3 separate regions of the Homo sapiens genome follow, and regions 1 and 2 are each linked to region 3. The links come from fine-mapping of genetic effects on gene expression. A gene starts in region 3. Each other region holds a variant in brackets. All regions are shown on one strand. Distances are between the middles of the regions. Region 1 overlaps ABCC8 (ATP binding cassette subfamily C member 8). Region 2 overlaps ABCC8 (ATP binding cassette subfamily C member 8). Region 3 holds the start of ABCC8 (ATP binding cassette subfamily C member 8).

Region 1 (7,582 bases), 46 kb before region 3:
CATGGCTGCCTCTGCCAGAAAATCCTCCTGCCTCATGGCCTCAGGGCCTTTGTCCATTCTCAGAAACCCCATCACTTCCACTTGCGTTCCTTGGCTACCCACTTCTGATCTTTTTGTGCATTACCTATACTGTCTGCAATGGATGGTTTGACATTAAGGCTGGCAATTTTACCCTGTCCTTAGTGCTTCACTCCCACCCAGCACACGGAAGCCTCTAGAATGTAGCCTTCCCCTTCTATAATATACCCAGGGCATACACCAAGAATGAGCAGAGAGTAGGTGCTCAATAAATGCAGCTTTGTCTTTTTATCTCTATGTTATTCAGTGGGACATGGGGAGGGGCATGCTGGAGGGGTGGACTGGGCCATACCTCGGGGGATACGAATGGTGATGTTGGACAGTGTGGGGATTCCATCTGGGGTCCACGTGAAGTAGCCTCCCATGATCTTCATTAGGCGTGTCCCACCGCCCAGGAGAGAACAGAAAGGCAGCCAGTTCCCAGTGAATAGTCTCTGGCTTCCCCTCCTCCATGAAAGCCAAAAGACACTGATTCCAGCCCCTGGATCACTTCCAGAGCAGGGGAGTGGGAGACTGGCCTTCTCATGCTGACCCTTGCCTAAGGCTGGGGGTCCCCCCACTTGGTGGTCCCTGGTTTCTGGACTCCTATGGACCGTACAGGCAGGCAGGGTGACCTCTGCAGAGGACTAAGCATGCAGCTTTCTGGCTTTCCAGGTGCTGAGCTCCCTCTGGGAGTTGGTGCTGGGTGGCCAGGCATGGGGCAGCAGGACTCACCTGGACACAGCAGTTGTCAGCATCGCCATCTGCACTGGGGACCAGGCTCTGCAGTGGGCCGGTGAGGCCCCGACAATCCTCCCGGGCTGGACGCTTGCGGTTCACAACCCTGAGGGGCTGGGGGTGGTTTGGAGGTGAGGACCCACTGGGCTGGGAGCTGTGTAGGGAAGGGAGCCCCTCTTCCTGGGAAAAAAGGCAGAAGTCCGACACAGCAGGCCCAAGTTTTGGGCCTTAGAGGACCATGCTGGGAGTAGCAAGGGGAGGCCGGGCACTCACCACCGCCTGGTACTTGCTGGCTGGGCCCTGAGGTGTGGGCTCATGGGGGGCACACTGCTCCTCACGGATCTCTGCACTGGACAGGAACTCGCTTAGCTTTTGCACGCTGCTCGGGAAGCACAGAGACACCCCTCACCCCTGCCAGGGGCAGAGGGGAGGGGAGAGGGCGCAGCCTGATAGAGAGCTCTGAGCAGGATCTCAGGCCTGAAGTATAGTCCCACAAAGCCCACACTGAAGGGGGCAGACCAGTGGGCATGGGGGCAGGTAATTGGTGTTACCAGGGTTTGCTAGGGTTGACCAGTCAGCTGGAATAGGCTGGGGTCTGGATTGGAGGTGAGATTGGTTAGTTTTAGGGTTAATGTTGAAGTTAGTTAGTCTGGGTTATTAGACTGAAGGATGGTTGGTGTTGGATTGGTCAGGGTTAAGGTTAGTTAGGACTAGGATTGGTAAAGAATCAATAGCTAGTATTTTGTGAGCATACACTAAATGCCAGACACTGTGTTAACTGTTTTGTAGCATTATGTAATCGGATCCCCATAACAGCCTGCTGGAGGAGGTGTCATTACTCACGGGGGAGGCGGCTATTCCTACCCTCTCCCCTGTCCAGATTTCCCTGTGGACCTGAGGAAGCACTGGAAGCTTCACTCTTCTAGTTCATTCTCTCCCATCCTGGAGGTGTGAAAGCTTTCTGGGAAGCTCAGGATTGTTTGTATTCCCCTTTCTTCTCTTTTGCTAAATGTCCAACAGGCCTGGGGCAGACAAGCCATCCCACCCTCAAGGCAAGGTTATTCTGGGGTGTAAGTGAGCTGTGGCCTGGAGTCTCCCTTTCTGTGCGCCACCCCTAGATGGGAGGGGCAGACCACCAGGCTCTGCCTTCATGCCCTGTCCAGCCTCCCTCCCCCACAGGCGGTGACTGGGAAGAGTGGAGCTGGCCCTCATCTCTTGGGGTGAAGCTTCAGGTAGTGTCCTGCGCCCACCTTCAGCCAGAGCCTGAGCTGCCTCACTGAAAAGGCCTCTGCTACTCTGGTGTTCCATTCCTGGAAACAGTGGGATCCAGAGTGTTTGAAAATATGAACGCTTTGGGATCAGTGCAACAGTTTTCAGGCAGGTGCAGCGTTCTTAAATCTGTGGTTTCTACACAGAATCATAGGGCTGGAGAGTGGGTGGTGGGAGGAGGGGTGATCTTCAGACCCCACAACACCCTGGTCAAGAAACTGAGTCAGCACAGCCGACTGTGGAAATGGGAGCTAATCCCTGTTTAACCAGCTACTGCCTGGTCAGATACTCCTTAGAGCATAATTTTGCTGAGTTATGCCCCATTCCATCTTTGAACCCATGCTAGAGTCTCCCCCTGCAAGCTACCCTCTCTATCAGCTACTTCATTCCAACAGCTACTCCTTCCTTCCAGCTTCCCAGTACCTGCCAGGGTCCCATGAGACAGGGGTGTCACCTTCCTCAAGGCTGAAGACACAGAGGACATTTGTTACTGACTGGTTCTCTGGCCATGGGTAAGGACAAGCCAGCCCTCCATAGAGGCATGACAGGCTCTTGCTTTCAAGGAGGCAGAGCTACTTCAGAGGCCCAAGGACATCTTCTCACTCCAGACAGGGCATTTCCCAGCCAAAGCCTCAGCCTTCTACCTTCAGGCTTTCATTCCCAAGAGGGCAATGCCTCTGGGACAGTGGCAGAGTCCCCATGAGGCTCTAGAGCCTGGAAGTGGGAGCCTCCAAGAGCTGTGGGCCAATCAGAGCAGGACCCAGCGCTTGGGGGAAGCTGTTTCACTGGCTGAGGCTGTGAGGGCTCAGGGGCTGTGGAAAGGGTAGGGGATACTTGGCCTGGGAAAGATAGACACAGTGGATGCCTTCTGATATCCATGGGGCAGCCACGTGGGGA[C/A]GGGATGGCCTCATTCTTGGTGGCTCTGGAGGGTGAAGTTAGGACCAGTGGGTAGAATTTAGGAGGATTCCACATTTGGCTCAACACTGGTTTTTTTTTTTTTTTAAGTTGTCGTGAAAGTGACAGTGAGTCCCCTCTCCTGGGAGGTATGTAAGCAAGTCCTTGCTCAGGGATGGCGAGCTGGGAAACCATACAGGCCAATGTCCCTCTGACCAACCAGGACCAGCTACAGCAAGGCCCAGCAATGGGGGTGTGTTCCGGGACCAAACAGCTGTGGTTTGGCCATCACTCGAGCAAGCCTTGAGGCTGACACAGGACCTGCCTGCCCAGTGCCCTCGCCCGGACCCTCCCCTCACCTCACTAGAGCTTTGACGGTAGATCGGACCACACTGGACAGCAGGAACAGCGGTGTGACCAAGATATGGAAGAGGGAGAGGGAGGCAAAGGCCACGGAGGGCGAGAAGTCGGCCTCTTTGAAGAAGCTGACGTGGCCCACGAAAGTCTGTGGACAGAGGCACAAGTGAGGCCAGGGTGGCCCAGGGTGTGGGTCCCTCCCACACTGGAAACGCTCAGCACTGGAAGGGAAATGAGAGGGCTGTCAGGGAGCAGGCTCCTAAGAGGATCTTTTAGTTGGAGACACCTTCATCATCCCCACAGTCATCTCATGGAAACGTCCCCAACAAGTTCAGGACTTCAAGCTGGAGAGCAGGGGCTGCTCCCTCCCTGTCCTGGCCAAGACTCCCTGTCCTGCCCAGTCTTGGCTGGGAATAAGCAGGGAGGAGATCTCGGGTTAGGTCAGCACGGCCCCCTCTGCAGACAGCAGGCGGGGTGCTCATCTCCCCAGTCCTCATCGGGATAACGTAAACAGAGTGATTACGAAACTGCACAGTGCTTTGCCCCAGCCACCTGGCTGGCTCAGTGGCCTCTGTTACCCACAGTTCCCCCAGGAGCCAGGCCAGGAACCAGCTCAATACATCACATTGGAAGTGAATTCCCAAGTGTATCCGACAGGCTGTGAACTCTACACAGCTCAGGGACACTGGCCCCGGGGGAAATAAGCAGATCTTTTTAAGGAACTGCAGCCATCACAGAAGATGGGGATGGGAGGCTGGGTGAGGGGGCTGCAGGCTCGTAGGGGCCCAGGCCTTTCTGTAGGAGCATGCTGCTTGACCCCCATGGCTCAGCTCACACACAGCTTTTATCAAAATTGCTTTAGAAAGCCACCATCATAATATTCAGTGGCATGGAGAATTGTGTGTGGCATATTCCTAAATTTAAAAGAGCAGGTTGCAAAACTGCATGCATAGCACATTCCTATTTTTGTAGAAAATGACATATCATAGGCCTTAAAAAAAGACTGGAAAGAAACACATTAAAAATGTTACCAGTGGGATTATGGGTGATTTTAATTCTCTTTGAGCTTTCTGTTCTGGATTTCCCATCACTTCTACAATACACATGTTTCACTTTAAAAATTAAAAATTTGGATAGCTATTTTTTAAAAGAAAGTTTAATTTCTCTAAATACTAAGCCTCCGGTCTTCCAGGCCTGGAGGCAGAGGCCCCTGTTCGGCTGGAGTTGGGGAGGGGCCACACCCTCTATAAACTTTCGATCCTATTTTCAGTCTGGCTGTGGAGCCTGTCTTCTGAGGCCCCTGTGCAGAAAGGCCAAATCTGGGCAGCCTGTCACTGCAGACGCCCTCCCCCTCCACCCTACCCCCAAGAGATGGAGAAAGGATCCACTTACTATGAGGACAGCTGCAATGGGGATGGCCGTGTTCATGAAAACTGCAGAGGAAGCACAGGGAGGCGTTTAGTGGGAGGAGCGTGACAGCTACACATGGAGATGCCCAGGATGGCTTGGAGGCAGCGCAGTCCAGTGGGGCCAGCCTGTGGGGCACAGCTCCAGTAGGCTAGGGGCAGAACTCTAGCCCTGTGGCACTTCCAGTTCCTCACCCCATTTCCCTCAGGACTCTTGTCCCAGGTACCCCGGCCCCCGACTCTGGGGCTTAAACTGTTAAGTCACTCCGTGTGGACAGGGTGAAGTTAGCCCCACGGGAAAGTGGTGGGAGAAGGATGGGAGAGTTGGCTGGCTGTGGCCAACTGTGAGGTCAGGAGCACGTGTTTCTGGGGGCACAAAGCTGCCACTTCTTCCTCTGCCTTTGGCTCCTGTGTCCCCCCAAGCCAGGCTCTCTATGAAGCTTAGAGACTTCCTAGTCTCCCATGGCTCTTGAGAAAATTTCAAACTCATTCTCACTGAGGTATTAGTAACTAAGGACAGCTTAAAGCAGGATGTCCCTTAGAGTCTGTGTGCGGGTGGGGTAGCTGGTTTGCTGCAACAGAGGCCTCCTCCTTATTCTGTTAAACATGTGGCCTTTAGATCAGTCACAGGGACTCCAGGAAGAAAAGACAGTGGGACTTGGTGTGACAGAAGGGCAGAATCCCTGCTACTTATAAGCTGTGTAACCTAGGGCATGTCATTTACCTTCCCCGTGCCTCAGTTTCCTCATATGATTTTTGTAAACTTATAAATACTTGTTCATACACCCCAGCTCTTTCCAAGGTCAGAGGAGATAACATGGGTAACAGGCTCTGTGAGCCCCAGGTGCTGCCTACACATCATACCTCATGGGCTACTAGCTTAGCCCTGCTCCACAGGTCACCCCTCCTCTGGCCTAGGGTGTAAAATGCTCAACAGTGCCCTGACCCCAGGCCTAAATTTCCAGAGAGAGCAGCCCCCCCATGGCATAAGAGGTAACCATGTCAGCTGCCACCTTCCCATCTATCCTCTTTCATTCAAGGATCCCCTTCCAGGGCAGCCCAGAAAGGAGTCTGGTTCTGCCATTAGCCAAATTAAAGCAGAGGGACCAGGAGTCAGGAGCCAGAAGCCAGAGGCCAGGGCTCTGCCTGTGCACATGGCCCCTGTCTAATGAATGGCAAAGTCTTGGACACTCTGATGAAGTCCAGATGGTCAATACCAGTCCAAGAAGTTGACTGCCCATTTACTCCAAGAATCCTGCAGCAGTCAGTACATACAAAGCATTGTACATCAGAGATGTGGTCCCCAACTTCAGGGAATCCCAAGTGGGTGGAAGGACATGGCCTCTGCCCTTAGGGGATTCCCAGTCTGAGGACGGAGACAGGAGCTATGCTCCCAGGAAGTTCCAGATACAATGGGGAGACAGAGTACATGCCCCTTAGGAGTTCTCAAGCAGGTGGGAAGGACATTGTCCCCATCCTCGGGGAATTCCTAATCTGATGGGGAAGGCAAGGCTCCTGCAATTGGAGAGGTCCCAGTCTCCTGGAGGATGTATGGCTGGAGCCCTCGTATGGCTGGGGCCCTGGCAGATGGCGAATTTCTCTGCCCGTGAGGCTTTTAATCAATACCAACATCATACATGCCTGTGCTTTAACTGCCCTTCCTCATGAAGGCTAGATGGTTTCCAGGGCCCACTACCATGCCACAGCCCTCCTGCACCGTTTCCGGCAGGAAACAGCGTAAGTATTATTGGTGTTCCCACAGCAAAAGGGACCCAGATCTAGGACATACGACATAGTGCAGCCATTACTGGCTGAGGAGGAGAGGGAGGAGGATGCCCATCAGACCTAGGACCTTGACCATCACCAACTACATAGTTCTAAATGTGAGGTAGCCTCGCCCCTCCCCTATGGGGTCAGTCACTCCAAGGAGCAACTGGGAGGGCAGGGGCCTCTATTCTGCTCCTCCTGGCCCATCCCCATAAATAACCAATAAGGAGGGGTCCTGTGCACCCATCCCTCAGCCCCTGCTCCAGGCCAAGACCCCTCCTTCACATTCTGGGGCTTGACTCCCAGCCAAAAAATAGGCTGAGTGTTGGATTATAAATTGCTACAACGCTCTTGGAAAGCAATCTGGTGCTTTGTAGCTAGAGCCACACAGAAGTTCAGACCTTCTGATCCTATAATCCGTCTCCAGGAAATTTATCCTGAGTAATCATTCAAGAGCAGCGCAAAGCCATCAGCAAGATGGTATTAGCTGCAGCTAACACAAAATTCAATAAAACAAAACCACAACCACAGCAACAGCAACAAACCATCCCAAACGAAATAAACTGGAAATGTCCAACAAGAGGGGCTGTTGTAGTAAATGATGGTGCATCAGCCGTGGGGGAGATTTTGCAGTCAGAAAACGTGATAATTGACACTTCATTCTACTGCACATTTTCCCTGGTCATGGTTTTTTTAATTTAATTTTTTTCAATTTTATTGTCTTTATTTTTGTAGCTCCCTGAACTCCTTTGAGGAATGAGACAAGCTATAAATAAATTTAAAAATGAACATCCCAAAGCTGATGCAGCAACATGGAGTATGCTTCTGATATAATTAGCTTCTGCCCAGTTCTGGCTGTTGTATGGAGACGCTAAAGAATGAAAATGTGATTTTCCACTTCTTTCACCCTCCCCTTGAAGGACAGCCTTTGTGCAGGGAGTTCTGGGTCCCCTTCAGGGCTGGGGCTGGGAGAGTAGAATCATCAGCTGCGTGTGTTCGCGTGTGTGTGTGTGTGTGTGTGTGTGTGTGTGTGTTTTGCAAGAAAAAGAAATAACCTTTAATATGTTCAATGATAATTTTCTGGATCTTCCTGT
Region 2 (7,582 bases), 55 kb before region 3:
AGACAGGAGTCTCATTCCCTATGTTGCCCAGGCTGGTCTCCAACTCCTGGGCTCAAGCGATCCTCCAGCTTTGGCCTCCTAAAGTGCTGGGATTACTGGCAGTGAGCCACCGTGCTCAGCCAGTATTGTCTCTTTATAAAGCTCAAAATAACCATATGAAGGAGGTTTATTCTGATCGCCCTCACTTTACAGATAAAGAAAGTGAGGCTCAGAGAAAGGCTAAGTAACTTGCCCAAAGTCACACAGCTAGTAAGTAGCGGAGAAAATAGCTCCGACTCCAACGTTCATACTCTTAAATGCCATGGTACATTACTCCCCTGTGATTTCCCATGCCATAACTCTGATAAATGCCCCTTGTCAGGAGAACCAGGATGGACGAAATCAAGGATGGAAATGAGCCTGATGAAATCCCCCTCCTGCTGAGGGTCAGGACTGAATGAAGATTCTGATGGGTATGTAGTCCCCAGTCCCCTCTTTTCCTGTTCTCTAATCTTCGTGGTCTCATTTCATTCTCTTAACCAAACTTCATATTCCCTAACCATCAGATGGCTGTAATTTACAATTTATAGACAAGCTGGTAACATGAGACATAGAAACCTAAAGCTTACAAATTCCAGCTCTGTGGCCACAGCCCAGATAAGCTTATCTCTGGAGTCTTCCTGATGTGACTACTTCCAGAGTAGCAGAGGTGGTTATTGATGCATCTGTGGCATTCCTGAGGACCCCAGCACACAGTAAGCTCTCCAGGCCCTAACTCAGTTTGCAACATGGTCTGCACTGCTCAATTAGCCCTCATAATGGACTGCCTTCCTCTCTGATCAGCTCCCGTGTAATTTGTTCATCCCCAGTGGAATTTTAAGGCAGGAAGAACATCTTTTTCAGCCCCCATGGTGCTTAGCACATGACAGAGCTATATAATGAATGGAGGCTGGTAACAGATATATTAATCATTTGGAAAGAAGAAAGGGCGGGGCTGGCTCTCATTGCTGACCTTCACTGTGCACTGTGAGAAGTTGTTTGCAAACAACTCATCATCTCATCCTTACAACCCTATAAACCCTATCCCCATTTTACACATGAGGATACTGAGACTCAGAGTTTGCAAATGTGACAGAGCTGGGAAGAGGGGAAGCTGGGGTGTGAATCCAAGTTCTTCTCTTTCCAGTGTAGCCCCAAGCCTCCTCCAGTGAGCCTCCCCAAACTTTGTATCTGTTTTAAGCTGAAAAGTAAAGAATGGTATGTCTGGCAGGCACCATCTCTCACTCATTGCTGTGGTCTTTACAAGAGTGCTGAGGGGATTCGATTCCTCCTCTGCCTGCACTCTAGGGAGGAAGCACACAGCTGAAAGCATGAGTCTTCCAGTTCCCCAACCGCATGTCCTTCCCTCCAGCCCACTAGGAGCTGGCATATGTGTGGCAACCTGAATCAGGGTGCAGAGGCTGCCTTCCAGGGGCTCACACTCTGGTAGGGCAAATCAGAAAGGTACCGAAGTCAGGAAGTTATAAGGGTCAAAAGAAAAGTAGGACAAAGTATCGGAGAACTTTTGGGGAAAAGTAAACACAAATGCATATGCAAATGCATAAAGAAAAACTGGAAGCTTCTGGGTGATGGGATATTAGGTGGTTTTTATCTTCTGTATGCTTGTGTATCTTTTCTAATGTAATGTGCATTCTTTTAGAATCAGAGAAAAAACATAATTTTTACAAGAAATTTGGAGGAGGAAGAAATCTGAGAAAATGAGTAGAGCCTCATAGAAGAAGTCATAGCTGAACTGAACCTTAAAGAGTGGGAAGGATTGAGACGGTGGAGGTGAAGGGAGGGAACTGCAGGTTAAAGGAAGAGGCAGCATATGATAACAGGTGCGAGAAGTAGGAAAAATATGGGCTCTGACATTTGAATCCCAGAGGCTTTTCCACTCATTGGCTGTGAAATCTGAGGCAAGCTCCTTTACTTGGAGGAGCCTCTGTTTCCTGATCTATAAAATGGGGGTGAAGGCACAAACCTCACAGTGACACTGGAGAATGTATTACAGCTCACAGCTGGTTAGGGGGCAGGTTGTAGGCTTGGAGAACTAGGAGGAATTGTCTTTTCAGCTCAGTGCTTGGCCCCAAAAGTACAGGCAGAGGGAGAATCAGATACCCCCAACACTCATTTAAGACCCCGGCAATAAATAAAAAGGGAAGAAGTGGAAACTGAGGTTCAAAGAGTGAGCTAGGATATACAGGGCTCCACAGCCCATTCATCCTGCCCAGACAGGCTTGTCGCTGTCCTGAAAGGTTACCTTTCACCCACAGCATCCTTTCCAATTGATGTCATTGGGTCCCATTGCCAAATCTCTGAGACAGGAAAGGTAGGGTTTTACTCATTGTCCAGACAGTGAGTCTGTCTCAGAGAGGTGAAGTAACCTGCTCAAGGTCACAGAGCTAGCAAGTGGCAGCATCAGGACTACAGCCAGGGGCCATCTGGTTCCCATGGCTGGACAGTCACTTCCTCAGAGCATCCCTTCTCCTGTCTGTCAGCTGTCTCACCACACCTGCCTCCTCCAGGAAACCCAGGGGCACTTGAGCCCCTGACTTCAGCTCCCCAAAGGCTCCAGGAATTGTACAGGCAGATGCGACCAGGGCCGTCCTGAGAGAAGCCTTTTTCTCTCTTCCTGGGGAATCAGGGCTCTTGGCAGGCAGCATCCACACCAACCACCACAGGCAACAGCATTGCAGCAGGGAGCTCCAGTGAGACTGCATGTGCAGCTCCTCACAGGGAAGTGGGAGCCTCTTCCCCACGCTGATCCTTTCCTCAGGGCCCTGGTTCCTGCTGACCCCCCGGGGGCATTTAAAGTCACTCTACTGTGGATATTAATGGCTCTATTCTTTATTTCCAGGGAAAGAATTTCACCCGAGTGTATCTGCTAATCTTGACTTTTTACCAAAACATTTTCCTCTTAAGGATTAAAGAGAGAGTTTGCAAATCCCAAGGTTGTCACAGTTCCTTGAAGCAGAGAGCCAGGGAGGGGCAAGTGATTCTTCCTAAAGTGAATGCTTGGGAACCACACAGTTCTCTCTGAGACCAGGAGCCAGGCTGCTGACGTGAGGGACAAGCTCGGGGCTGCATCTGCAGGACTTCAGCAGATGGACCCTTTGTGCCCACCCTGCAGCTCTGTCTGCACACCTCTGTCCATCCTGGGTGGGTGAGCTCCCCAAGGGCAGGTGCTAGGCCTTTTCCTTTGTAGCCTACACAGAACAGTGCACAAAATACACATCTGCATGGGGCACCTGGGGTACAACATGGAATAATCCCTCAAGGAGCTCAGAGTCATGGAGGAGACAGACGCATTAGCAAATAATTATAATACCATGTGAGGTATGCACTAACGGTATTTGCTCATTCCAAATATTGATGGAGAAGAGGGGTAGTGAAATACTGGGTTAGGAAACAGCTCGGACAAAGGCATGTGGAAAGGAGAGAGATGTCAAGATGCATTATAATGGCAGCCTCTTGAAGGTCTTAAGTTGTTCCTGGTTCATTCATTTAGCAAGTGAATTCGTTTAGCAAAAAGCACTACGGATACAGTGAGACAAACAAAATATGGTCCCTGTCCCCAGGGAGCTCACAAGAATCTTTCCCAGGAGACAGACTGGAGGACATTTAAAGAGGAACAGGTGAATTTTGTTCCTGGCAAAGAAGTACACTATTGAATAATAATATTTATAGGATATTTACTACATGCTAGGTTAATCCTCACATCAATCTCATGGGTAATAAGGGAAACTGGTAGAGAAAGCTTATGAAATTTTCCAAAGCACAGAGACCAAATGTGAACCCAGGCAGCTTGGCTGCAGAGCCTGTGTGTGCAGCCATACTGCTCACGTGGTCACTGGAGGAATAAACGAATAGTTGCACCAACAAAGCACCCATCTCCCCAGAGCATTCTCCATTCTACACCTCCTAATCCCCCAACTTCCTGCCTTGTGCCTCCTGGAACTCCTTCTGGCTGCCTGGTCACCAGGTCTTGGCCTGGGTATGGCTGAAAAGCATCTGAGCAGCAGCCTGGCATCACCCTCTCCTCTGGCTGCAGGCGTGCAGACTTGGGAATGCTTGCCAGGTCAGAGGCTGTTTTGCTTTTAGCTCACTTTGCAAGCACGTCTTCTCCCTGCAGACCTGGGGCTCAATGTCTGAGGTGTGGAGTTCCTGCCAGTAATGGAGGGGGACTCTCAACACACAGCCCCCACACTTAACTCAATGCCCAGGATAGGTGGGCCAGCCAGAGCAGTGCACATGTCTAGATTTTGAGAGACAAACAGCAGATGAAGCTAATTGAGTCGTATCTGCCTAGACTCCTTCTCCTAGCCACTATAAGGAGCTGCAGACTGACCTTCCTTCCTGGAGTCTGTCTGTCTTTTCTTTTTCTCTCTCCCCAGTCCATCATCCTTTGTCATAAGCATGATCCTTCTGCAGCATTTGGGCTAAAACTTACTTCCTAGAGGTAAGCACTGTATCCATAGTGCTTTTGCTAAATGAATTCATTTGCGAAATGAGTGAACCAAAAACAACTTAAGATCTTCAAGAGGCTGCCATTAGAATGCATCTTGACATCTCTCATTTCCCCATGCATTTGCCCAAGCTGTTTCCTAACCCAGTACCTACCTCTCTTCT[T/C]GATCAATACTTGGAATGAGTGAATATTAATGCACACCTCACACTGTGTTATGATTATTTGCTAATACCTCCCTTCCTACAGTCTGTCTGTCTTTTTCTCTGTTTCCCCAATCCATCATCCTTTATCACAAGCATGGTTCTTTTGCAACCTTTGGGTTAAATCTTACTTCTCAGACCTACTACATGGGATCTAAGCCAAGTTCACTTCTTCAGTCCCATCTTTCATAATGCACCCCATGCATCCAGTGTTCCAGGTGCACAGAACTATGTTCTTTAATATCAGCAAGGCTTTGCCCACACCATCACCCCTGCCTGGACCACCTCCCTTTCCCATCCCTGCCTTTTCTACTTGATGAAACCACACTCATCCTTCAAGGCTCAAATACCACATCCGCAGTGAGCCTCCTCTCCTTGACTGCAGAGTCAATTGTGGTTCCTCTGAGCTCTTCTAAGGCCCAGGTCTTCTCTCCCCTCTCTTAAAAGCGGGGCCGGCCAGGGGTGGTGGCTCATGCCTGTAATCCCAGCACTTTGGGAGGCTGAGGCGGGCGGATCATGAGGTCAGGAGTTCGAGATTACCCTGGCCAACATAGTGAAACCCCGTCTCTACTAAAAATACAAAAAATTAGCCGGCATGGTGGTGTACACCTGTAGTCCCAGCTACTTGGGAGGCTGAAGCAGGAGAATCGCTTGAACCTAGGAGGCAGAGCTTGTGAGGAGCTGAGATCGCACCACTGCACTCCAGCCTGGGCAACAGGGCGAGACTCCGTCTCAAAAAAAAAAAAAAAAAAAAAAAGCAGGGGCCACGTCTTAGTCACCTTTGCACTCCTGTTGCTGTCACAGGGTCTAGTATACACTAGGCGCTCAACTGGGTGAGTGAATACGTCACTGTGGACGCTGGAGAATGAGTTGACTTGGGAACAAATTCTCATGATTTCCCAGGGTTGGCTGCAAGCTAACAAATGCACTTCACTATGCTTGAAAGGGAAGCTGGACCAGGACCGGGCGAGAGAGCAAAGAGGATCCTGGAGAAATGAGACCCCTTCACTACCGCCCCTCTGCGAGCCTCGAACAGAGCTGGGAGCTGGGGCCTAGGCTACCTGTAAAGGAGAGTAAGTGTTGATAAGGACAGAGCTGTGAGGACCCACGTGGCAGTTCTGGGAGGAGGCAGGTGTGTGTGAGTCATGGCCACAGCGGCTGCTGGCCTTTGGACTGTCAGGCTAGCTATGCCTTCTTCATGAGGCTCTTGTGCCCCTTCTCTTTGAGCACATGGTGGCAAACCAATGCACTTGAGCACCTAGGTGCAAATCCCACTTCTGCCATTTAACAGCTGGGTGGCCTTGGACAACTTGCTTCACCTCAGTTTCCTAATCTGATAAATGAGGATATAATAATATCTACTGCACAGAGTTCGGTGCAGACTGACTGAGATGATGAGGTGCCTGCACAGTGCCTGGCCTATAATAAGTGCTTAGGCAGGAACAGAAAACCAACCACCACATGTGCTCACTATAAGTGGGAGTTGAACAATGAGAACACGTGGACACAGGGAGGGGAACATCACATACCGAGCCTGTCGGGGGGTGGGAGGCAAGAGGAGGGAGAGCATTAGGACAAATACCTAATACATGTGGGGCTTAAAAAGATGACAGGTTGATAGGTGCAGCAAAGCACCATGGCACATGTATAGCTATGTAACAAACCTGCACACTCTGCACATGTATCTCAGAACCTAAAATAAAATAAAAAATAATAAAAAAAAGAAGTGCTTAGGGTCCTCTGCCTTGGAGAGGCTCCTTGTGTTCCCTGGGCTGGGGCAGAGGTTTCCTAAGAGAGAGGGGCAGCAGTCAGACCCGGAGGGTTGGCACAGCTTGGAGAAGAGGTGGGGACTGAGGCAGGGCAGAGCAGACCCCTGCCAATCATGCCTGCTTCATCTACATAGGACAAGGAGAGCTCCTGAGGCAGGCACGATGCCACATGAGGGCATGAGGGTGGGGGAGGAGAAGAAAGCAGGGCAAAGGGACCAGGTTCAGAGTGGGTTTTGACATCCATGCTGAGCAGGTCAAGGCAGGGGCAGCTCCAGTGTCTGAGCCCTGCAATCCTTCTGGAAAAGCCCTGCCTTGGAGGAGAGCCCAGATCCAGCCTGACCACTACATGGGGCTTGGACAATAACCCTTAGGACTAGGCCCTGGGGGCCCCAGCAGTGACCAGGTTTGAGGGAAAGAACATGGGCAGAGTCTCTGCTCCACACACTGACTAGTAAGTCACCCAACTTCTCTGAGCCTGAGTTTCTGCTTCTGTGAAATGGGGTAACAACACTCCCCTCCTAAACTTAGTAGGAGGCTTGATGAGATCATGTTGACAATGCACTTAGCAAAGGGCATGGCCCATAGGAGGTACCCAATAAATATTGGTTACTTTCTTCAGCTCACAGTGCACTGGGGACTCTTGTCTTCTTGCTGCAGGCATGCAGTTGGACAGCAGAAAAGGGCTCCTCCCTCCAAAGGCTGGAGAGGCAGTCGGAATAAGGCAATATGATCTCAAACCGAATACCTGGGCCTTCCCAGTCAGGCTATGTTGAAAAATCTCCCAAATAAAATGGCGAATGGAGGCAAAGACCCCTCTGCCCCCAAAGACATCACAGTCCCTGATGGGAGGTGATGGGAAACCCAAGGGGCTCATCTGCTAGCCCACGACCCCACTGAGGAGGGAAATTTGCCATCTTTTGGATACACCATTCAGGGACATCTTGGAAATGCAGGAAACGGGGGTGCATGTTGATATTCAGACATTGGGCCCAAAGTCTTTCTCCCTGCTCAGTTCTGTACTCATGCTTATGAAAAACCTGACACCTTCAATAATTTTCCCCTAGAAATGATTGGTAGGGAAAGCTTGCCCTTCTGCTGATTGGCTGCAACTTTTATTCCTAAATGAA
Region 3 (7,582 bases):
TATGCCTTCTGGTCTTCTTGCTGGTCTAGGGACTTTAATAAGCAGGCAGAGCTGCTGCCTCCAAGTCAAGCAGGTATTTTAGAGATCACTGCTGAAGCCAGGATGCAGGGACATTGGGGAAGGGAAGGTGGGGAACGGGAGGGAGGATGAGGGAGCCTATCCCCTGCCATCCAACTACAGGAGCCAGGCAGCACTGCAGGAGTGCAGTCTGGGTATAATCTGATTCCAGCTCAGGGGGCGCTGGACCTCAGATACTCAAGCCAAATATCCCTCTCCTCCACCACTCCCTCTCCTGGCAGTCTCTCATCCTTGCTGGTTACTGGATTCTTCCTTAGTGAGATGGCTGCTCCCGCTCCTCTTCTGTCCCTGACTGCTGACACACCATTTCTGTCTGCAGTTATTGCTCACCTAGACTACTGCAGTCAATGCTAAGTCCTGCTTCTATTATACCTCTAGATTCTCCCTGCCTCCAGCCTGCGCTGAACACCTCAGGTTCCCACCTAAAAGTGTTATGCTGATGACATCTCTCTTCTGTTCCAAACTGCTGACCAAATCCGACCCAAACATGCAGGCTGGGATTCACAGTCCTCCTGAGATGCCCCAACCTGGGTTCCCAGCCTCAGCCTCCATCGCTCCCCAGCCTGTGTTTAATGCTCCAGCCCCTGCGCTGCTCCCTAGCCCTACCTGCTTTTCTCTTTGGTGCCTTTTCCCTTCCCTCAGGCACCACCAGTTCTCTCTCTCCTTCCTCCTCTGTGTGTCTGAAGCCTAGTCACCCTTCCAGACTCCGCTCCAAAGCCCTCTCAACCATGGAGCTTGCCCAATTCTGCCTTCCTCTCACCTCCCAGAGTACTTATTTGTAACATGGTTTCATTCATTCTCCTAAGGACCCAATAAATGTTTATGGACTGAATAATGTTTATGTTTATCACATGCCTTGCACTGTGAACACAAAGATGAACAAGACTCAGATTCTAACTCTTAGGCCTTTCTGACTCTGAAGACAGTTTTGCAAATAGACATAAACTTTAACATACAGTGTGATCTGTGCTGTAGCAGAGGTGTGAGGAGTGTGCTGTGAGGCCCAAACGGAAGGTGGGCATGGGGAATGAGGCCAGAGATAGGTGGGGCTGACTGTGAAGACCTTGAATGGTGGGCTGAGGATCTGAGACCACATCTTCAAAACAGCTGAGAACCAAGGAAAGGTCTTATGCAAGAGTGGGTGGCATGGTTAGATTTTTTTTTTTTTCCAAGAAGGTAACTCCGGCAGGTTGTAGAAGAGGCCAGACATTTTTCACTGGAGTTGTGGCATTCTAATAGGCTCTAGCATTATTTCACTGGGACTTGGCATGCAGGTCCGTGTTCCCTCTGCTCTCCTGGACTGATGGCAGGGCCTGGGACTCACTTGCGTCCAGTGCCCAGCTCAGAGAGGTTGGCACATAGAAGACACTGAGCTGCTGGATGTAGTAACAAAAGACATGGGCTTGTGGAATATAGGTGAGCTAGGATCTCCTTGGGCCTTTCAGGAAGTACCCTGGAGCAGATTCACTTTCCTGAGTCCTCAGACAGTCACTCACCCATCAGACAGGATGCCCTCTGCAATCTCACACACCAGGACGAAGAGCAGCATGAAGGTCAGGATCCACCGCAGGTTGTGCCCAGGGAAATGAAGCCATGTGCTGTGGTGGATGTGCACCTTGGAGCTCTGACTTCCCCATCCTGCAGGGAGAGACAGTCAGAGGCAGGATGCCTGCCCACTTGGAGGAGGAAGAGGGTGCATGAACCCCAGAAAGGTGCTTGGGCATTGGGTCCATGGTGAGGGTGACACCTACACATGAGGATCCCCAAGGCTGGTACACACAAACTAAACGTCCAACTCATTCAGCCTGGTCCTATGCTGGTACCTCCCCCACCACACCTTTTTACTGAGACAGGGTCTTGCTCTGTTGCCTCTGCTGGAGTGCAGTGCCACGATCACGGCTCACTACAGCCTTGATCTCCTAGGCTCAAGTGATCCTCCCGCCTCAGCCTCCTGAGTAGCTGGGACTACAGGCGCACATCACCATGCTCAGCTAATTTTTAATTTTTTGTAGAAAGGGCGGGGGGGGTCTCACTATGTTGCCCAGGCTGGTCTCGAACTCCTGGACTCAAGCAGTCTTCCTGTCACAGCCCACCAAAATGCTGAGATTACAGATGTAAGCCACTGTGCCCTGCCAAGGTACCCCATTATACATACTAACTTCTTGTGTGACAAGTCATCAGGTTAATAAACCGTTTGGCTGAGAACAGAAGTGTAAATGCTGTTCTTTTTTGATTTTTGATGCACATATGAGCACATATTTTGTATGTTTTATTTCTATTTCTATCTAACTGTCTTTGTTAATAACTAGCAACTCTGCTTCTGCAGCAACCTCTTGTAAATCTAATTTTGTGACAATCTTTCCTTTCTTCCCCAAAGCTGTATATGAATTTTAAGATTTGCTTGTTTTCTTAAAGTGAATGAACACGTTTTGGGGATGCAGGGGACACCCTATGAGTTGATAGACTTGACTGGTCTGGAAGAGTCAAGGTCTTGGAGAGAGATGGGGGGGACCTCAGTGGAGAGGCACGCACGATTGTCCCGGCCGTGGCGCCCAACTTTGCAAGCAAGGGCGCCGGGGTCGCTGCGTCGGCGAGTCGGAGCTACTTTGCGCAGAGCCTGAGAAGTTGCGCTCTGGAGACACATGCCCGGGTGGGGTGGCGGGGGAAGGGAATCCAAGTCCCTAGCTCTCGCCTCTCCTCGCCCAGGGCGCGGGCCTGGGACTGTCAGAGATCACGGACCACTGCGCGGCTCAGCCCGGTGAAAGCATAGGGGTTAGCTGGGCCTCCATCCCAGACTCCAAAGCACAGGCTTCCCTCTTCCCTAGGCCCAGCTGCGGCTGACAGGGAGGCTGCCTTGCGGGAGGGGTGACCCGGCTCCCTAAGCTGCGCCACGGAGGGTGAGGCCCGACCCCTCTCCAGTTTCCCACTGCGTGCTGAGACCTCCTCTTTCCCTTTTCCCCATCCCAGCTCTTGGCCCTGCAGAAGCAAAACTTGGTGATCCCATGGGTCACAAACGTCCGCTGTGTTTGGCGCGGGATCGGGGGCACCGGGGGAGTGAAGGGATGAGCTGGTGTGCGAGTGCGGGGACCGGCGGGCAGGACACAGGGCAGGGGACCCCGGGAACGAGGCGGACGGCGGTCGCGGGCCGGAAGGGGACGCCGAGCGGTGCGGCGCGCAGCGCCTCCTCCTCCCTCCCTGCTCTCCCGTCCCCTCCTCCGCGGCTCGCTGCGCGCACTCACCAATGAAGAGGATGGGGAAGGTGATGAAGAGTAGGAAGACGTGCGGCACCACGTTGAGCGCGTCCACAAAGCAGCCGTTGTTGAGGACCCCCTGGTCCACCCGGTAGGCGGCCGAGTGGTTCTCGCTGCCGCAGAAGGCCAGGGGCATGGCGGCGCGGGCGCGGGCTGGGCTCGGGCTCAGCTGGCTCCGCTGGCTCCGCGCGCCTGCCGCGCCTCTGTCCCTTGCAGCTCCGCCGCCCGGCCCGGCCGTCAGGCCCCCGCCCCCCGGGCCCCGCCCAGCCCCGCTGGCCTCCCCCTCCCTCACCCCGCCCTGCTCCACCACCTGCGGGGCCGGGGGGCGGCGAGGAACCCGACCGGCCCTGCTACGCTTGCGCCCACCTTCCAGATGTGGAGGCGCGTGCTCCCAGATGTTGCCGGGGTGGCTTCGTGAGTGCCCTGATGCACGCGTGCGCTGGGGGAGAGGGGAAAGGCAGGCTAAGATGGGGAGTGGGGTGTGGGCACACTGGAGTCTGGGTGGGAAAGGAGGGTGGGGCGTGCAGAAGAGGAGAGAAGGGCCCGCAAGGCCTGGAGTGGGCGGGTTCAGGGTCCCGAGTGTGAGTTCACCTGGGCGTGGTGCGGATGGATGTAGAGAGCCGAGGGATGGCGCAAGTCTCCACCCAACATGGATGAGAAAAGTGGGGCAGAACGTTACCTTGTGGTGGTGGTGGTGGTGGGGTGGGGCTTGGACATTTTCAAAAGTGGTCCCAGGTGGGGCACTCCTAGGTACTGCTTTACAGCGTATCTGGCACTTTCACACAAGGGATGTCCCAGAACTCTTGCTAAGTACAGGTTCTAATCGCTTCCAATTTTCTGATGGGGAAACCCAAGCTGCGAGGGAGCTGAAGGGAGGCCAGTAACATGACTTCCCCCAAGGTCTCAGTGCCAGCAAGCAGGGAAGCATAGCTTGAACCCAGCTCCTCAGGTCCCCCGTCCCCACCCCCATCATTTGTACTCATGCCTCTGGTACATGACAACCTTACAGCGACTGGCAGACCAATGGGTAGAATGGGTGACAGCCCCAGGCTGATAAAGAGGAGTTTAAGAAACGCATCTGGCCAGATGGATGTGAGGCAGTGGAGAGGGACTGAAATTCTTAACCTCACCTGGGACAGGCTTAACAGTTGGAGGACACCGTGCAATTGTAAAGACAACATTATGTCTTCCTATACGTTTTGGAGAGATTCTCACAAGACTGTGGCCCAAAGAAGTTTATATTGTATGTAGAAAGAACAGAAGATGGGATTTGGGGGTTAGATTTAAGGAGAACTTTCCTAGTTAGGGTATGAAGCATAAATGCACATGTTCTTAGGAACAGTCAGGGGAACACAAAAGAAAGACCCCTTCAGCCCCTTTGCCTACAAGCTTCACTGAGCCTGCCCTGAGGCTGCTGAGCCTGGTGAGCCTCTCCAGCACGCTGTCAGCAAGGCCGAGGCTCTGCCCAGGCCCTGAGGCAGAGGGCAGATGGGGTTGGGTGAAAAGCCTTGGGAAAGCAGGAGTTCAGGGTCTGAATGCCTCAGTCTCTGACTTTGGAGAATTTCTCAGAAGCCAAAAGATGTTTCTTGCAGCATCAGCCAAAATAGTGAAAACTTGGTGGCAAGAAATATCCAGCACCAGGGACAGGGGTTAATCAACCTTGAAAAATGCAACTGCTGGGACGGTGCTAGCTGAGTCTGTGTAGTCAATAGAAAAACTTTACAAGATAGTGTCAGGTGAAAAACGGCAAACAAAATTGTGCTTCCCATGATTATAGCCGTACGAAATATGTATACTTGCATGAAGCCTGCAGGGAAAGGTCAGACTTGGAAATTTGGTAAGGCGGTGCTCAGTATGTACTGGCTGCCGTCGCTGTGCTTATCCTCATTCCCTTTCTTTAAAAATGAGACAACTGAGGTTCAGAGAGATGAGATGACAGGTCCATGGTCACCCAGTAAGATTTTTTCTTTTAGTTTGTTTTTCTTGCTTTCAAGGTTTTTTTTTTTCATATTTTCTGCAATGTTGTTATTTTCTTTTGTAGTTACAATTTCAGTTTTTTCACACTTTCAGCAATGCTATCTTTCTTTTTAGCAGTAATAATATATTTACTTTTAAAGAACAGGGCTCCTAGTCCTGGCTCTACTACTACTAGTTGTGTGATTTGGGGGCAGGTTACCATTCTGCACTTCAGTTTCCTTATTTCTAAATGGAAAAGATAATAATATGGAACCCAGAAGATTAAGATGAGATCATGGGTATGAATGTGCTTTGCAAGTTGGGGAGATAGTCCAAGCTACTTCATCCCATGGGTGACTACACACGGCAGCCCCTTGATCAATCAGGGTTATTTAATGGTCTCTCCCTCACCCCACATTGCCTGGTGCAACCCTCACACTTGCCTATTCTGGGTCATTTGAAACAAACAAAAAGTCTGGTGTTAAGGGAGCATCAACTGGGACTAAGAGAGTGTTAAGTCTGGAGTCTTGGGGACTCGTGTTTGCCATCTCTAGCACAAACTTACTGTGTGACTGTGGACAAATTCCACCTTTCCCTGCACCTAGGTCTACACTGAGGACATGCACCACACTGCCCACCATGTGGGTGGGAGAATTACTTTGAAAAAGTGTGGAGTCAGGTGCGCACGGAGGCATGAAAGGACTTCCTTTGTAGTATATGGGTTGTATTCCTGGAATCAACCCAAATGCTCATCAGTATGGGGCTGGTTCAAACAGACAAAACCCAAACAGACAAAAAACAGATATTGTCTGTACTGTGGGATACTGTGGAGCAAGCGCAGAGAATAGAGTTATGCTTACTGGCAGGGGAAGATGTCCAAGACACAGACGCAGAGCGGTGTGTGGCATACAAAATCATTCATGTCTGTAACAGGGCTACGTCTGCCTCTGTCGGGGAGATGCTGGGTCTCTGGTGCTTCCCCACCTCTAGCCATGCCTTTTGTTTCTCTTGCTAGGGGCTGGAAGAAGGTCAGACTCTGAGAGCTTGCTTTGAGCAAGGGTACCCCGCTCTGAGAATTCCCAGCCATTCTCCTGGCAAAATGAAAACTAGGGCTGGATTTCCGGGATTGGATTCTCACACTCACCGGCTACTGGGTGGGTGTGGCCTCAGGCAGGGTGCAGTAAAGGGGCTGGTGCAGAGCTTCAGAAAAGTCCTTTCCAGATCCCTTGAGCCAGGGAGGTTAAGGCTGCCGTGAGCCATGATCGGGCCACTGCACTCCAGCCTGGGCGACAGAGAGAGACCCTGTCTCAAAACAAAACAAAACAAAACAAACAAACAAAAAGTCCCTTCCAGCTCTGATGTTGTTCTGGCCTTAGTGCCTTTGTCTCTATCTGGCTGACTAGGAGTGCCAGTGTTCCAGTGACCATGGCAGAGGGGGTCATTACAATGACAATGGTGACGTAATGGAGTGGGGTTATAGTTGAAGAAATAAACCCTTTCAATAACCACAATCAACAGCGGCCTGGTTAAAAACAGACAAAAGCAAAACTCATGGTGTGACCTATACTATGGAATAGTGGAGAACAAGTACAGAGCCTAAGTTCGGGTGACCCTTACTGACTGGGAAAGGTGTGTCCTTTCCTGTCTCCTTCAGGTGCTCAAAGCCTGTATCCACAGGGGAACTTGGAAGACTGTAGAACCAGTGAAAGAGAGGACTGATGTAGAGACAAAATGTCTTAACTGGAACCTGGGAGGGAGAAGTGATCTCCTGTCTCATCTCCATCCTGCCCCATGTCAGGAGGAGGGAAGTAGAGAGAGAAGTTCTTTTGAGAGGGAGCCTGTGCCCAGCCTCCCTGCCTGTCTGTTGTAGAGGTGGCTGGGGGACAGCCACCCAGAAAGGGCAGGTTGTGTGTAGACTGTGTTAGAAAATCCATACAAGGGCTTTTTAGGTTTTTAAGATTATTTTTTTTTTCCTGTAGAGATGGAGGTATTACTGTTTTGCCCAGGCTGGTCACAAACTCCTGGCGTCAAGGGATCCCCCCCGCCCCCTAACCTTGGCCTCTGAAAGTGTTGGGATTACAGGTGTGAGCCACTGTGCCTGGCTCACATACAAGGGCTGTTTTGAAGAAAGGTGTTCTTGTCCCAGGGCAGGGCCTCTAGACAACAGAGGCAGGGGACCCTCAGCCATACTTGAATGGCGAGGGTGAGGCAGGAACAAGACGAACTCTCCCCGGTCTCTTGGCATCACGTAACTGGAGAGGTGGGGAAGGAAATCCAAGAAGGCCCAAGGCTAATGT

The links. PIP is the estimated chance that this variant, and not a neighbour inherited with it, causes the effect.
Region 1: its variant is fine-mapped to the expression of ABCC8 in tibial nerve (GTEx, PIP above 0.99). The same link has a PIP of 0.9 or more in amygdala and nucleus accumbens.
Region 2: its variant is fine-mapped to the expression of ABCC8 in thyroid (GTEx, PIP 0.96).

Annotation. Positions count from the first base shown.
Region 1 is chr11:17,427,497-17,435,078 of GRCh38, forward strand. ABCC8 (ATP binding cassette subfamily C member 8) reads right to left here. Exons shown (of 39, transcript NM_000352.6): 11 at 4,708-4,748; 12 at 3,318-3,463; 13 at 1,069-1,174; 14 at 793-909; 15 at 371-446. It also overlaps the pseudogene SDHCP4. Among named protein-coding and RNA genes, the nearest start is that of KCNJ11, 43 kb to the left of the region's middle. The variant C/A (reference allele first, on the strand shown) is at 2,962.
Region 2 is chr11:17,417,937-17,425,518 of GRCh38, forward strand. The region is part of intron 16 of ABCC8 (ATP binding cassette subfamily C member 8); the gene reads right to left. Among named protein-coding and RNA genes, the nearest start is that of KCNJ11, 33 kb to the left of the region's middle. The variant T/C (reference allele first, on the strand shown) is at 4,651.
Region 3 is chr11:17,473,312-17,480,893 of GRCh38, forward strand. ABCC8 (ATP binding cassette subfamily C member 8) reads right to left here and starts at 3,534. Exons shown (of 39, transcript NM_000352.6): 1 at 3,318-3,534; 2 at 1,575-1,716. The coding sequence starts at 3,465. It overlaps LOC124902641 (a long non-coding RNA gene), which reads left to right and starts at 3,340. Exons shown (of 2, transcript XR_007062609.1): 1 at 3,340-3,420. RefSeq lists an enhancer at 2,190-2,746.